Regions from separate parts of the Homo sapiens genome. Here all the other regions are reported to be linked to region 1. Evidence: microRNA targets listed by miRTarBase, many of them from high-throughput screens and not tested one by one. Region 1 holds a microRNA gene; each other region holds the end of a gene's coding sequence.
Evidence for each region. Region 1 holds the annotated microRNA hsa-miR-99a-3p (CAAGCUCGCUUCUAUGGGUCUG, at 3,685-3,706, shown strand). A microRNA usually pairs through its seed, bases 2 to 8, with sites in the 3' UTR of a target mRNA and lowers its output. Matches are read on the target gene's strand: a 7mer-m8 pairs with bases 2 to 8, a 7mer-A1 pairs with bases 2 to 7 and ends in A, and an 8mer does both.

Region 1 (5,075 bases):
GAAAAAAAAAAAAAAAAAAAAAAAAAAAGAGACGCTCCTGCTCAAAAACAAAAACAAAAGCAAACAAACAAAAATCCAAACCAAAACAAACCAAAAAAAGCAAACATTGGCTGTATAACTACAGAGACATCGGGCTTTGTAAATCAGCTTTTTAAGGCAACATAACCAAATGAGCCTTCTTTATTTTTATTATTTCAAACCATATGGCATAATTAGCAATATATTGCACTTGGTGAAATCGCACCTTTCATATCAGGTATAACTTTTTTTGTTGTTTTTCTTTTAAAGGCTACTGTTATATAAAAGGGAATCCTTGAACTTTTAATTTACTTTTATTTAACTCATTGCCCACTTTACTCTTATTAACTTTTTCCTTTTCCTCTCTTGCTCTAATCTTGATTAAAATAGAAACTTAAGGAAAGATAGAAAAATCTCTATGAAAAAGACAATACATGTTTTTATGTGGGGTATACACAGAAGTTTTGGAAAGATATTAATATATCTGTGCTTTTTGTGTCCAGTATTAGTTTTTGCTATCTAAGAAAAGTGAATGTTTAGACCTAGTGGGTAAAAAAAGTAAATCTTTCATGTGACTTATAATTTGAAATGTGAAAGAAGAAACTTTTTAAACTTGTAGAAAAGGGTTATATTAGAATATGCGTTGAATGACTGATAAATAAGATTGCTTTTGGGGAAGTTATATTCAAATTATTTACAAAGATTTCAGTAGAACAAAAATAGGAATGAGAAGAGCATGTTCTCAGTTGCTAGGTAGAAAAGAAGCTTCTTTCATAATAATATGCTCTTTTAAAATACATTTTAAAAGAAGTACTTGTCCTAGAGCAGTTGCAAAAAGCATTGGAAATATCAAGTGTATTAGAAAAAGTACATGCAAACTTGTTTTAAGTTCAGAGCAATGTATTGGCTCAGCAGATAACTGCATTGCATTATAATTATTTTGTCTGTTTGTAGAAGTAAATTGCTAAGCAATTTAAGCATTTTATTAAAAAAACAGTTTTGCCTGGTTCAGTGTGAAAGGATTAGCAGATGCATTCCAGCTATTTTAGTTTTGATAAAAAATGTTTCTAAACAAGTGTAAAAATAATTTTTAAAAGAGAATGCTTTTGAAAAATTCAGCAAGTATCAATGAAAACTATAATTTGCATACTAAGAATTGACGTTATAATATTTCGGTAAAAATATACTTTGGTAATCTGTTATGCTTTTAAAATCATATTTTCTTATATTACAAATATGTAGGGTAAACAATGAAAAATGTAGAACTGATTAATTCTGCCTTTGTGTTTGCTATTCTATGAACAATTACAGGAAATTGCAAAATCCCTATATACTGATAACATTCAAATAAAACGTTCTGTTGGTTATTGTTCACTAATTATTTACAAAATAGCTCTTGTACCTCCATGCTGCCTCAGCTAATGGTACACCAACTTTCACTGGCTTAATTAATATTGATAAACCTGTTTCCATGTTTCAAGATCCGTTTAAAAACATTATTTTAAATGTTATTTTTAGCAGCCATTAATCTCTACACTCTTAATTATCTTATTAAGCTCCATGCCAAATCCAAATCTCTTTTCAGCTTTCGCTACTTCATTGTGCAAAACCTAGTCGCTTCTTTAACAGCCATCGTCCTTTCACTTTCAAAACTGTTACTGTGAAAACAACACGAACCAAAATGAACGCATAAATGCAAACTATGAAACCACTTTATATGTCATATGAGTAGCCTGGGTGGGGCCCTGTGAGTCTTCCAAGGCTTTAAAAAAAAAATACTTTAAAAGGTTTTGCCCATTTTGATATCGTGTTTTCTTCTCGATCGTCTACCCTCATTCCCACGATCCACTCAGATGCTCCTCCTAGACAGCAGTTGTCTGATATTTCTCCTTTTGTGGTTGTTTTAGGGAAAAACTTAAAATGGATATGAAAAGTGAAGAAAGTGATCATAGGAGAAAACCATTTCAGGTAAAAATAAAAAACAAAGAGCAAATAAGATTTACTGTTTTTAAAGAAAAACAACATTCTTTTGACTGTGTTTTGTTATAAGAATTAATTTCATATTCTTTATGAGTGTAACTGTTGAAATTTTATTGATGGTTTTCATTTGAAAATGTGTGCTATGACCTACCTTTGTGAAAAATTTCTTGTGGTCAATTGGGCAGTTTGTGTCCCATTGAATATATGTCTGTGTATCCATACGCTTAAGATAGGTGCAATACGGTTTACTAGAAAGCTTTATAGGAAAAGAAAAAAATTATATTTTCTTATTTGTTGTACCATATAAAAGGAAGTGAAATCAGGAGGAGGGGAATAAGGTCATGCTTTTTCATCTTTTTTACATGACCTGATAAGACAATGAAACCAAAACATGCTTTCTTATAGTTATGGTAAAACTAAACCCAATGCTGCCTCTTATTTCACATTTGCATTTATAAATATATGTTGAAATATTTTTACTACAACTGAATGTATGATTGTTGATTATTTACTATAGTTTTTAATAATTATGAGGACAATTTAAGAATAAATAATGGTTTAAAATTATGTAGAACACATGATCTATATAAAGGCTATAAAACGTATTTATTTCAAAATATGCAAAATCACTAAGCAATTAGTATGTAGTATTATTTTACACAATAAAGATATAATTAGGAAATGCTAAGTGATTATAGATGTGAAATGATTAATGATTGTACAACTTATCATTTTGTTGCAGTTGAGTTTACAATCTTAAAAAAACGTGTATGTGGCTGGCTTTATGTTTACTCGTTTGTGTGTTTGCTTGTTGTCTGGTGGTTTAAAACATTTTTTAGTAATATTTTATTTTTGCCCAACCTGTTGACCAGATGAGAGTTGTATGTAGCCATGCATTTTAAGTGTATCTTTTTTGAACAATAAGTTTAAATATATTTTATTTAGGAAAGAAGATATCCTATGTCATGTAATACATCTGGAGTATAAATGTTAGTGTGGAGTATTAGTAATCATGCCATTATCGTGCCATTTAGTTTAGTTTTATATTAACTCATCCAAATATTGTAAATTTTAGCACCATTCCGACTATAGACACAGATGTATATATTTAAGGCTGATAATAACTTCCTGTATTCTCTAGCTAGTGAACAAGATCTTACTGTTTTATGAGAAAGTTATAATGTTACCAATTCCTTGAAACCAGTAACTAAACTAGTTTTATAAAAATTAAAATAAGCACGGTCTAACTCATACACAATTAACTTAATAGTTAATTTGGTTTTAATTATAGGCTCGTAATACTACATTCATGCCTCACAATTATATAATTCATACATGCATGTATGGATTCTTTTTTCTTTTAAAACTCAATTAGAATAGTTTAATTCCAAAATATTTACTATTGAAACAAAAGCAGTTCGTGAAAAATTTTTCAATAAACTACTTTTTAAATTCTCATGCATATAAATTTGTATTTAGTTTTGAATATTTATGAAGGCCTTTAATGGAGAATATGCATCCTTAGAACTCAGCATTTAAAACATTTATACTAAAGGATCAATATTATTTTTGACTCTTAATTGCATCAGATATTTACAACAAATTCTATATTAATAGGGGGCCCATGCAAGATGTTGCCCATTGGCATAAACCCGTAGATCCGATCTTGTGGTGAAGTGGACCGCACAAGCTCGCTTCTATGGGTCTGTGTCAGTGTGGTAATCTGACAAAATGCTATACACAGTGCCGTTCAACAATAGTTCAGTAAAATCCTGTTAAACTCCAGTTGATTATATACTTTTGAAGTCATTATATTTTCCTTTGTTTTTAATGTTTATTTTAATCATTGTCTGTCTTACAAGGCAGGCTTCAATTCTCAACAACTTGGAAGCGTTTATATCACACCCATTCAAGTTCGATTCCATGTACAGTAAATTGCATAAGAAAGTTGAACCTTTATAGCAGGGTTTGGACCAGGATCTGAATAGATTCTGTTCAGAAACTTCAGTGCATACTGTAGTGCTTAGTGTACCTCTTCAACTTCAGTAAGAAAATTAAAGACTACCATTGGATTTATATGTTTTTATTGAGCCTATTTCTCCTGAAAAAATGAGGCTGAATGCAATTGACTTTTACTATTAATTGCGACTAGAACTATGGCAGGTTAGATGGTCAGAAGACATTTTACGTGACCTATGCTGGAAACCCAAGTGTTTAGGTTAGTCCTATGAGAAACAGTTAGCAGCAAAGTTTACTGGTAAAATGTTAGAATATTATATCTATATCCTTGCCAAGCCCTTAGGTGTATGGCTGCCATATTTGGAGGAGCTGACTGAAGATATGATAAGGAGTTTGAAGCAACATTGGAAGCTGTGTGCATCCGGGTTGAGGTAGTAGGTTGTATGGTTTAGAGTTACACCCTGGGAGTTAACTGTACAACCTTCTAGCTTTCCTTGGAGCACACTTGAGCCGTCGAGGAATTCTTCATCACTTTAACCTGATTGAGCCAATTTGTGTGCAAGAAGGTAATGTGTCATGAGTATCTTGGATCATTGATTTGGGCCTTTATTACATTAAAATGATCATTTCAGCCCTATTAGATTATTCCATTTGTATCTGCTTATGAACAATGTCAAAATGGTATTTCTAATGGGTTGTCACTCCATGTTCAAACATTTTAAGAAAATTGTAGGTAGTGACTTAAATTGCATTAATATTAAAGCTTTTTATCATCTATAGATTAACAAAATTCAGACCTTAATTTTCAAATGGATCATTGGTCTATTTATATTGGCTGCTTAGACACTATAATAAAAAATGTCTGCTAGAGTTAATAGCTCCCATAGCACATTATTTGCGTTTTCCTTATGACACATCACTTTCTACCTTATGTTATGGCTATTTATGTGCTTGCTGATTTTTTCCGCACTAGACTGTAAGCCCCTTGAGGGCAAAGTCCATGTTTTATTTTTCACTGTATCCCCTCCAATGCCTTACTCATAATGAGCACTAACTATTTATTGGATTAGTGAATGGAGTGTAAGACCTCACTCTGTGATGAGTTTCTATTGAATATT
Region 2 (5,075 bases), not on the chromosome of region 1:
TACTCTAAACAAATAATGAGTAATTTTGTCAAAAATTGATATATAAAAACGTTAATTACAGCAAAAAAATTTTAAGTGACCAAACTGTCCAACAGTGGGAGAATGTTTAAGTAAATGATGGTACAGCCATTTCATGAAAAATGACTTAACTAACAAGAATTGTAGCAGGCACCGTGGCTCACACCTATAATCCCAGCACTTTGGGAGGTTGAGGCAGGAGGACTGCTTGAGGCCAGGAGTTCAAGACCAATCTGGGCAACATAGTGGGACCCCCATCTTTACCAAAAAAAAACAGATTTTTTTAAACAGTAGGAAAATAACACTTAAAGAAAAGAATTGCATACATGGTGAGTAGAATAATAGGTAATTCTAATTTTAGTCTTCACATGTTTATAAATTCTGTTATAACAGATAGATAAAAGGCAGTTGTCCTTTTAATAATAAGGTAAAGTAGATGGGCTTCTGAGCTTTTTTTTTAACCTTACACTGCTCAATATTTTAAAAATCAAAATTACATACTGTCTTACCTCCAAATGTCCAAGCTTCTGAGCTTCAGCTATAGCTATTGAACAGGAACTTCAGTAATAGCTTTAGTTATAACTAGTTTATGTGGACTACACAGAGTTAACCATGGGACAGATGGGATACCTTAGGGGTCTAGAAGAGAAAAAAAATCATGCAGTTTTAAAATTATTTTAAGAACACCATGCATGAGTCAGCTGGATTCAAAATGCCAGGATACTCCTCCTAATAATCTGCATAATTTATTAAAAGCTATGTAACTGGGAAAAAAAGTTGGAAAACAGATTACTTATTTATGTATTGTCTTAATCTCAACTTTAAAATGTCTTGTTTCCTTTTATAGTGTTGTCAAGTGTACCAGCTGGAATGAGGGAAGCTATGAACTTCTTATACAAGAAGAATCCAGTGAAGATGCTTCAGACAGGTGACTGTGATTTAAACAAACAAAAAAAATCTATGAATGCACATATCATATACCATGACTTCTGAAGACTATAAATGAATTCCACAATCAGTGCTTCACTGAGAACCAATTTTACCTATCTTTTCTTCTAAACTGAACAGTCAGAGAGACAGCTCCTGGCTTTAGCTTCTTGTGGTACCACGCACTTTGAGCACTTTGTGCGTATCATGCAATATACTTGCAATACACAGAACAAATTTCAAATACGCCTCACTTTTAGACTTAGAAGAGAAACATTAAAACTTAAGGGTGTAAGGAGGGATCAAGAAACTTGATAAGGTCAAAAGCAATAATCTCTCTGACATATTCCAGGCTCTTACACTGAGACCAAAGAGAAATCTTTACCTCAGTTTCTTCATCAGCAGAATGGGTTTCTGGCCTCTCTCAGGGATAATTTTGAAGGCATAATGAAAATTATGATGAATCACTCATTGGTAGGAAAATAATGATATAAGTTTCAAATATGTATGATTTTACCTATACTTGGTAATGCTTTATTTTATAGAGCCTGTTAAGCTGCTATTGATAGTCGGAGCTTATATACTGTGACTTCTGAAGACTATACATGAATTCCACAATCAGTGCTTTGTTGATACAAAATCCTTAAAAGGGAGGCACTTTAAAGAATATGTATTTTTCACTTTTCTTAATATGTTTCATCGGTGACAGGCATGATAATATTTCTATATGTAATGGGTAATTGGGAAAAAATAGATGATAAATAAAATTGCTCTAAAGAAGTTAAAAAACTGAATGAACAGCTAATACTGGTATAAAGTAACTAATGTTTGGAGCCAACATTTGTTCCTTGTGTCAGCAAAAGGATATTCACATTCCATGATCCCTGGCTGAGAATTCTGCCTCTAGTCTTTCTTACCCAGCTGTTGTCTATCCTTGTTCAATTATAAATACTGCTAAGGGCATTTTTAAAATACGATCTTGTACTCCTTAAATTTGAATCCGTCAACACGGTCACTCATAGGAAAATGATCAAACAAGCAAGCCAGTCATGATTTGACTCCTTCCCATCTCATTTCTTACTGCCTTACGCTCATCCTGAGGTCCACCTTGGTCTCTAAAAACACCATGTGTTCTCATGCCTCCATGTCTTTTCACACACTGTTCCATTTGCTCTTCCTCCCACATTACATTGAAACTTTCAAGCCTCAGTCGAAACATTGCTTCTTCTGGATAGCAGCCTTCTTGACATCCCTCCTCACTCCCCAGTCCCTACAGGGCTTCCATAGCTCTTTGTGTGCACTTCGATCCCAGCATTTTCCATCGACTTGTAATTGTTTCTGCTACCTGACAATCATCGCCTTGAGTACTGGGACAACCTTTGATTACTCATTATATCCTCAATAAATATTTGTTGAACTAAACTAAATGACTACAAAATTTTATTTTTACTTGTAAAAATCATTTAGAGCTATATATTTAATGCCTTATGAGAGTAACCACTGTTATCATGCCAATCATTAAGCCAGCCTTGCAAACAAATTGAAAAATATGCCAGTTTATACACTTTTAAAACTGATTTACAGTATTTTCATAGGTCCTTTAATACCTCCCATTTTCGAAGTTACCATAAATAATAACACAAATGCCCTAACGTGCAACTAAATGAGTAACTTCATTGTAATCTCTTGAAAGTAGATACAATCTTCTGTTTTATAGTATTGCTTAGGGCTTTAAGAAAATCAATGATTGCTTGACTAGTGAATAGCACTCATAATTTAATATACTAGAAATCCTTATTTCCAAGATCATTCCTTTTAGGTTTAGCTAGTATCTTCTGGGCTTGGAGCCCGTGTAATAACTAATTCTCAGATTGACTGATACATTTTTGTTTTCCTTCCTGTCCAAGGTTCTTCCCAAACCAAAACAAAAAGCATCTTACAGTTTATAAAGTAGATATTCATTCTCCTCATTTTACAGAAGAGGAAGATAAGTCTCACAGAGATTTGGCTGGACCGTGGTTATTCAGTGCCTATCAGTATGACACATGAATGGACTTCACCCTACTGAATGAAGTCCAGCTACTTCATAGCTAGGGTTTGCAGTAATAGATTATAAACCCCAAAGCAAGAATTGTACAGGGGTAGCATGATGTACTCATCAAAAACAAATTAACAAAAAACTGTACCCAACTAACTGCCTATAATTATTATCTTTTTTGAGCTTAGACAAGATGGTCTATAAACTCTCTTCCAGCTCAACATTCCATGATTTTACACATCTCATCTGAACTGAAGAGGTACTGTGTAATACAGTTGAAGGGTTAACAGATGATTACTTGAGCAAAAACTCTATTTGAGATGTAGCAAGTATATCAGGAGATTAGATTGAGGTGGCCAAGGGCAAAAATGTAGCACAAATGAACTTAGCCATCTCCAAAGTGTCTAGCCTAAGAGACAATTAGTAAATGTGGTGCTGAAGAGACTAGAGAACCATGCAAGCTGATGGGATGGGGAACTATAGACTCAAAACAGAAATGAAAAAAAAAAAAATCTAATTTCCCATCATGTAACCCGATTATCTGAAGAAAGAATGTTAATGGAAGGACTGGTCTTTATGGAGCCCAGATAAAGAGAAACCAGAGAGGAAAAAACATGTTCCATGTTATCCAGCAGTGTACAAAGGGGGTTAGATTACCATATCTACTAGAAATGAAGATTCTCATCATTACAGAGGACTAGTCAATGGGATTGTCCACAGCCTGCATTGCACGGCCTCATACATCTAAATCCCTTTTCTCCACTTCCATACTCACTAGATAATTGTGTCCAGAGTTGGTTCCTTCTGGTGGGTTGGTGGTCTCACTGCCTTCAAGAATGAGGCCACGGACCTTCACTGTGTTACAGCTCTTAAAGATGGCATGGACCCAAGGAGTGAGCAGCAGCAAGATTTATTGTGAAGAGCGAAAGAATAAAGCTCCCACAGCGTGGAGAGTGACCTGAGGGGGTTGTGGCTGCTGGCTTGGGGGTGGCCAGCTTTTATTCCCTTATTTGTCCCTGCCCATGTCCTGCTGATTGGTCCATTTTACAGAGTGCTGATTGGTCCATTTTACAAACCTCTAGCTAGCTGCAGAGCACAGATGGTGCGTTTTCACAGAGCACCGATTGGTGCATTTTACAATACTCTTGTAAGACCGAAAAGTTCTCCAAGTCCCCACCCGACCCAGAAAGTCCAGCTGGCTTCACCTCTCATAATCTTCTAATTACTCATTCAATGCCCAAGAATCTTGACAATAGAATAGCATGGCCTGGGTTCAGTATTCTTTTAAAGAAATCCCTGCATATGAGAACCATCTGAAGAATTTAAAAATAAAAATAAAATAATTAATTAGTAAAAATAAAAATCCTTGGCCTCATGTACTAGAGATTCTGCTTCAGTAGCTCTGCAGTGAGGTCTTGGAATGTATTTCTAAAACCTCCCCAGGTGACTGATACACATCCAGACCTGGAAACTACTGCCCTAGATGACTGATTTTCAACCCTAAATGCACATTAGAATAATCAGCTTTGGGGTGGGAAGTAAAATGAATACATAACACCAACTCTTATTCTCATCCAGTAGTTCTCAACCTGCCAAGTCAAATCACTTGGGGAGCTTTTGAAACTTCCAATGGCCTAGCCTCAGCTCAAACACATTAAATTAGAATTTCTAGGTATGAGAGCCAGACAGTATTTTTTTTCAAACATTCTCCAGGTGATTCCAATATGTGGCTAGAGTTGAGAATCACTACTCTAGGTCAGGGGTTAGAAACCATTTTCTGTAAAGGGCCTGAGAGTAAACAGTTTAGGCTTTCTGGATTATACAGTCTGTCACATTACTTAACTTTGCCATTGTAGCACAAAGTAACCAAAGACCATACATAAATAAATGGACACAGCTGTGTGTGATCAAGATGGGACCTGGCGCAAATGGTTTCATTGCTAAACATTTAAGGAATAAACATATTAGTACTACCTACAGCTTTTCTAGAAAATAGAAGCAAGGAACACTTCCCAACTCATTTTATGAGGTCAGCATTACCTTCATGTGAAACCAAAGAAGTTACAAGAAGAGTAAATGATGAATTTATATC
Region 3 (5,075 bases), not on the chromosome of region 1:
AAACATTACTGAAGCAACCCCTGCCATAAGTATATGTGCTTATCTCCTAATTCATATACAATTTAAAAAACATCTAACCTGTTATGAGCCATCTTCTCATGAGTCTATGCCTTTTATGTCTTGTTTTTGTTTTTTTTCCCGAGACAGGGTCTTGCTCTGTCACCTGGGCTAGAGCATAGCAACACGATCATAGTTCACTGTACCCTCGAACTCCTGGCCTCAAGTGATCCTCCCACCTCAGCCTCCCAAAGGGCTGGGATTATAGGCGTGAGCCACCATGCCCAGCCAAGTCTATGTCTTAAACCCCTAGCTAGACACCATAAATCCTTTGAGAGTAGGAATTGAATCTTATACCTGTTCTGTATCTTAGGTTGACCCCCTGAAATCAAATATTCTACCAAAAATATTTTAACCAAATGGTAAAATCACAGAAGCTTTCGTTTGTTGGATGCTTACAATGTACTAAAGGCTGGGCCAAGAGAGCTTTACATGCACTATTTCACTTAATCCTCAGCATAAACTCATGGGGTAGATGCTTTGTTATCTTCCAGTTGAATAGAGGAGGAGACTGAAAGCTCAGAGAGGTTCGGTATCTTGCCCAGGCTCAAGCATCTGGCGAGTGTCAAAGCTGGGACAGAAGCTCGGGTGAGGCATCAAAGCCCCTGCAGTTACTTGCTAGGAAACCCAAACCGCCTGCTGTTTTGAGTGATTGCTTTCAAGGGGCGGAGAGCACCACTCCGTGCCCATCACAGGACCTGCAACCACAACGACTGACAGCTGGAAGTGAATCACGGCGTTCCTCCTCAGATGCTTCTGTGCTTCTCTCTAGGTATCAAGCACCGAAGCACAGAGCACAACTCCAGCCTGATGGTATCCGAGTCTGAGTTTGACAGTGACCAGGACACAATCTTCAGCCGAGAAAAGATGGAGAGAGGGAATCCAAAGGTTTCCATGAATGGTTCCATCAGAAATGGAGCTTCCTTCAGTTATTGCTCAAAGGACAGATAATGGCGCAGTTCATTGTAAAGTGGAAGGACCCCTTGAATCCAAGACCAGTCAGTGGGAGTTACAGCACAAAACCCACTCTTTTAGAATAGTTCATTGACCTTCTTCCCCAGTGGGTTAGATGTGTATCCCCACGTACTAAAAGACCGGTTTTTGAAGGCACAAAACAAAAACTTTGCTCTTTTAACTGAGATGCTTGTTAATAGAAATAAAGGCTGGGTAAAACTCTAAGGTATATACTTAAAAGAGTTTTGAGTTTTTGTAGCTGGCACAATCTCATATTAAAGATGAACAACGATTTCTATCTGTAGAACCTTAGAGAAGGTGAATGAAACAAGGTTTTAAAAAGGGATGATTTCTGTCTTAGCTGCTGTGATTGCCTCTAAGGAACAGCATTCTAAACACGGTTTCTCTTGTAGGACCTGCAGTCAGATGGCTGTGTATGTTAAAATAGCTTGTCTAAGAGGCACGGGCCATCTGTGGAGGTACGGAGTCTTGCATGTAGCAAGCTTTCTGTGCTGACGGCAACACTCGCACAGTGCCAAGCCCTCCTGGTTTTTAATTCTGTGCTATGTCAATGGCAGTTTTCATCTCTCTCAAGAAAGCAGCTGTTGGCCATTCAAGAGCTAAGGAAGAATCGTATTCTAAGGACTGAGGCAATAGAAAGGGGAGGAGGAGCTTAATGCCGTGCAGGTTGAAGGTAGCATTGTAACATTATCTTTTCTTTCTCTAAGAAAAACTACACTGACTCCTCTCGGTGTTGTTTAGCAGTATAGTTCTCTAATGTAAACGGATCCCCAGTTTACATTAAATGCAATAGAAGTGATTAATTCATTAAGCATTTATTATGTTCTGTAGGCTGTGCGTTTGGACTGCCATAGATAGGGATAACGACTCAGCAATTGTGTATATATTCCAAAACTCTGAAATACAGTCAGTCTTAACTTGGATGGCGTGGTTATGATACTCTGGTCCCCGACAGGTACTTTCCAAAATAACTTGACATAGATGTATTCACTTCATATGTTTAAAAATACATTTAAGTTTTTCTACCGAATAAATCTTATTTCAAACATGAAAGACAATTAAAACATTCCCACCCACAAAGCAGTACTCCCGAGCAATTAACTGGAGTTAATTGTAGCCTGCTACGTTGACTGGTTCAGGGTAGTTCCCCATCCACCCTTGGTCCTGAGGCTGGTGGCCTTGGTGGTGCCCTTGGCATTTTTTGTGGGAAGATTAGAATGAGAGATAGAACCAGTGTTGTGGTACCAAGTGTGAGCACACCTAAACAATATCCTGTTGCACAATGCTTTTTTAACACATGGGAAAACTAGGAATGCATTGCTGATGAAGAAGCAAGGTATTTAAACACCAGGGCAGGAGTGCCAGAGAAAATGTTTCCCCATGGGTTCTTAAAAAAAATTCAGCTTTTAGGTGCTTTTGTCATCTCCCGCAGTATTCATCCTCATGGGACCATCTTATTTTTACTTATTGTAATTTACTGGGGAAAGGCAGAACTAAAAAGTGTGTCATTTTATTTTTAAAATAATTGCTTTGCTTATGCCTACACTTTCTGTATAACTAGCCAATTCAATACTGTCTATAGTGTTAGAAGGAAAATGTGATTTTTTTTTTTAACCAGTATTGAGCTTCATAAGCCTAGAATCTGCCTTATCAGGTGACCAGGGTTATGGTTGTTTGCATGCAAATGTGAATTTCTGGCATAGGGGACAGCAGCCCAAATGTAAAGTCATCGGGCGTAATGAGGAAGAAGGGAGTGAACATTTACCGCTTTATGTACATAACATATGCAGTTTACATACTCATTTGATCCTTATAATCAACCTTGAAGAGGAGATACTATCATTCTTATGTTGCAGATAGCCCTCTGAAGGCCCAGAGAGGTTAAATAACTTCCCAGAGGTCATGGCCAAGAAGTAGTGGCTCCAAGAACTGAATGCAAATTTTTTAAACTGTAGAGTTCTGCTTTCCACTAAACAAAGAACTCCTGCCTTGATGGATGGAGGGCAAATTCTGGTGGAACTTTTGGGCCACCTGAAAGTTCTATTCCCAGGACTAAGAGGAATTTCTTTTAATGGATCCAGAGAGCCAAGGTCAGAGGGAGAGATGGCCTGCATAGTCTCCTGTGGATCACACCCGGGCCACCCCTCCCTCTAGGTTTACAGTGGACTTCTTCTGCCCCTCCTCCTTTTCTGTCCTTGGCCATCTCAGCCTGGCCTCTCTGATCCTTCCATCACAGAAGGATCTTGAATCTCTGGGAAATCAAACATCACAGTAGTGATCAGAAAGTGAGTCCTGTCTTGTCACCCCATTTCTCATCAGAACAAAGCACGAGATGGAATGACCAACCAGCATTCTTCATGGTGGACTGCTTATCATTGAGGATCTTTGGGAGATAAAGCACGCTAAGAGCTCTGGACAGAGAAAAACAGGCCCTAGAATATGGGAGTGGGTGTTTGTAGGGCTCACAGGCTAACAAGCACTTTAGTTGCTGGTTTACATTCAATGAAGGAGGATTCATACCCATGGCATTACAAGGCTAAGCATGTGTATGACTAAGGAACTATCTGAAAAACATGCAGCAAGGTAAGAAAATGTACCACTCAACAAGCCAGTGATGCCACCTTTTGTGCGCGGGGAGGAGAGTGACTACCATTGTTTTTTGTGTGACAAAGCTATCATGGACTATTTTAATCTTGGTTTTATTGCTTAAAATATATTATTTTTCCCTATGTGTTGACAAGGTATTTCTAATATCACACTATTAAATATATGCACTAATCTAAATAAAGGTGTCTGTATTTTCTGTAATGCTTATTTTTAGGGGGAAATTTGTTTTCTTTATGCTTCAGGGTAGAGGGATTTCCCTTGAGTATAGGTCAGCAAACTGTGGCCTACAGCCTGTGTGTGCACGCCCCATGAGCCGAAAAGTGGGTCTTATGTTTTCAAATGGTTAAAAATAAATAAAAAAATTTGAAACATGTGAACTATATGACATTCAGATTTGTGTTCATAAATAAAGTTTTATTGGAACATATCCACATTCACTGATTTATGTATTATCTATGGCTGTTCTTATGTTACAACAAAGTTGAGGAGTTTTGACAGGGACTGTCTGCAAAGCCTAAACTATTTACTATCTGGCCTTTTACAGAAAGAAAAAAATTTGCAGAAGGCTGGACTAACATCCCCTGCTCCTTCCCTGTGGGAAGACAAGTGTTCCGGAAGAACTGAGCATGCTCAGTCAGCTCGCCTTCCTCTGTGTGGGTGGTTCTCTGCAATTAACAGGCAGTCTGTCCCTCGTGCCAGAAGGCCCACAGCATGGTAGGGTGATTAGATTCTGGAGAGAGTATACTTACACTGCATCCTCTAATCTAGCTCTTATCAGTAATAAAGCCATTTTTAAAATGAGGGCCGGGCATGGTAGCTCATGCCTGTAATCCCAGCACTTTGGAAGGCCAAGGCAGGTGGATCACTTGAGTCCAGGAGTTCGAGACCAGCCTAGGCAACATGGCCAAATCCTGTCTCAAAAAACACACACACAAAAATTTAGCTGGTCATTGTGATGCATGCCTGTAGTCCCAGCTACTCAGGAGGCTGAGGTGGGAGGATTGCTTCTGCCCTGGGGGTGGAGGTTGCAGTGAGCAGAGACTGGGCCACTCCAGCCTAGGCCACAGAAGGAGGCCATCTCAGAAAAAAAGAAAAAAAAATGCAGATTGAGGTATAATTCACTTACAGTAAACTGCACATAATACAATTTGATGCTTTGATATGTGTGCACATCTGTGAAACCATGACCACAATCAAGCTGTTGAACAAACATAATTACCCATAAAAGTTTCCTCGTGGCTCTTTGTAATCCCCCTCTCCCCTGGCAATCACTAGAGATTAGCTTGAATTTTCTGGAGTTTCATATATGGTAGTACTGTATGGAGCTTTCCCCTCAAACAGGTAGTAGTTCCTTCCTTTCCAGGCTGTTTTAACTCACTCCATTAGCAACTGTGAACAGAAGTTCTCTGAAAAGGAATTTGAAGGAAAGAGACTTT

Region 2: the mRNA of SLC46A3 is a reported target of hsa-miR-99a-3p. Seed matches in the 3' UTR shown: 7mer-A1 at 1,518-1,524.
Region 3: the mRNA of KIAA0319 is a reported target of hsa-miR-99a-3p. Seed matches in the 3' UTR shown: 7mer-A1 at 1,681-1,687.

The regions. Positions count from the first base shown.
Region 1 is chr21:16,535,454-16,540,528 of GRCh38, forward strand. MIR99A (microRNA 99a) reads left to right here and starts at 3,636; the gene lies at 3,636-3,716. All of the region lies in intron 6 of MIR99AHG (mir-99a-let-7c cluster host gene), which reads left to right. MIRLET7C (microRNA let-7c) reads left to right here and starts at 4,375; the gene lies at 4,375-4,458.
Region 2 is chr13:28,697,372-28,702,446 of GRCh38, reverse strand. It overlaps SLC46A3 (solute carrier family 46 member 3), which reads left to right. Exons shown (of 6, transcript NM_181785.4): 6 at 866-2,367. The coding sequence ends at 950. All of the region lies in intron 1 of LOC124903143 (a long non-coding RNA gene), which reads right to left. Among named protein-coding and RNA genes, the nearest start is that of SLC46A3, 19 kb to the left of the region's middle.
Region 3 is chr6:24,543,098-24,548,172 of GRCh38, reverse strand. It overlaps KIAA0319, which reads left to right. Exons shown (of 21, transcript NM_014809.4): 21 at 830-4,066. The coding sequence ends at 1,008. Among named protein-coding and RNA genes, the nearest start is that of ALDH5A1, 51 kb to the right of the region's middle. RefSeq lists an enhancer at 420-942.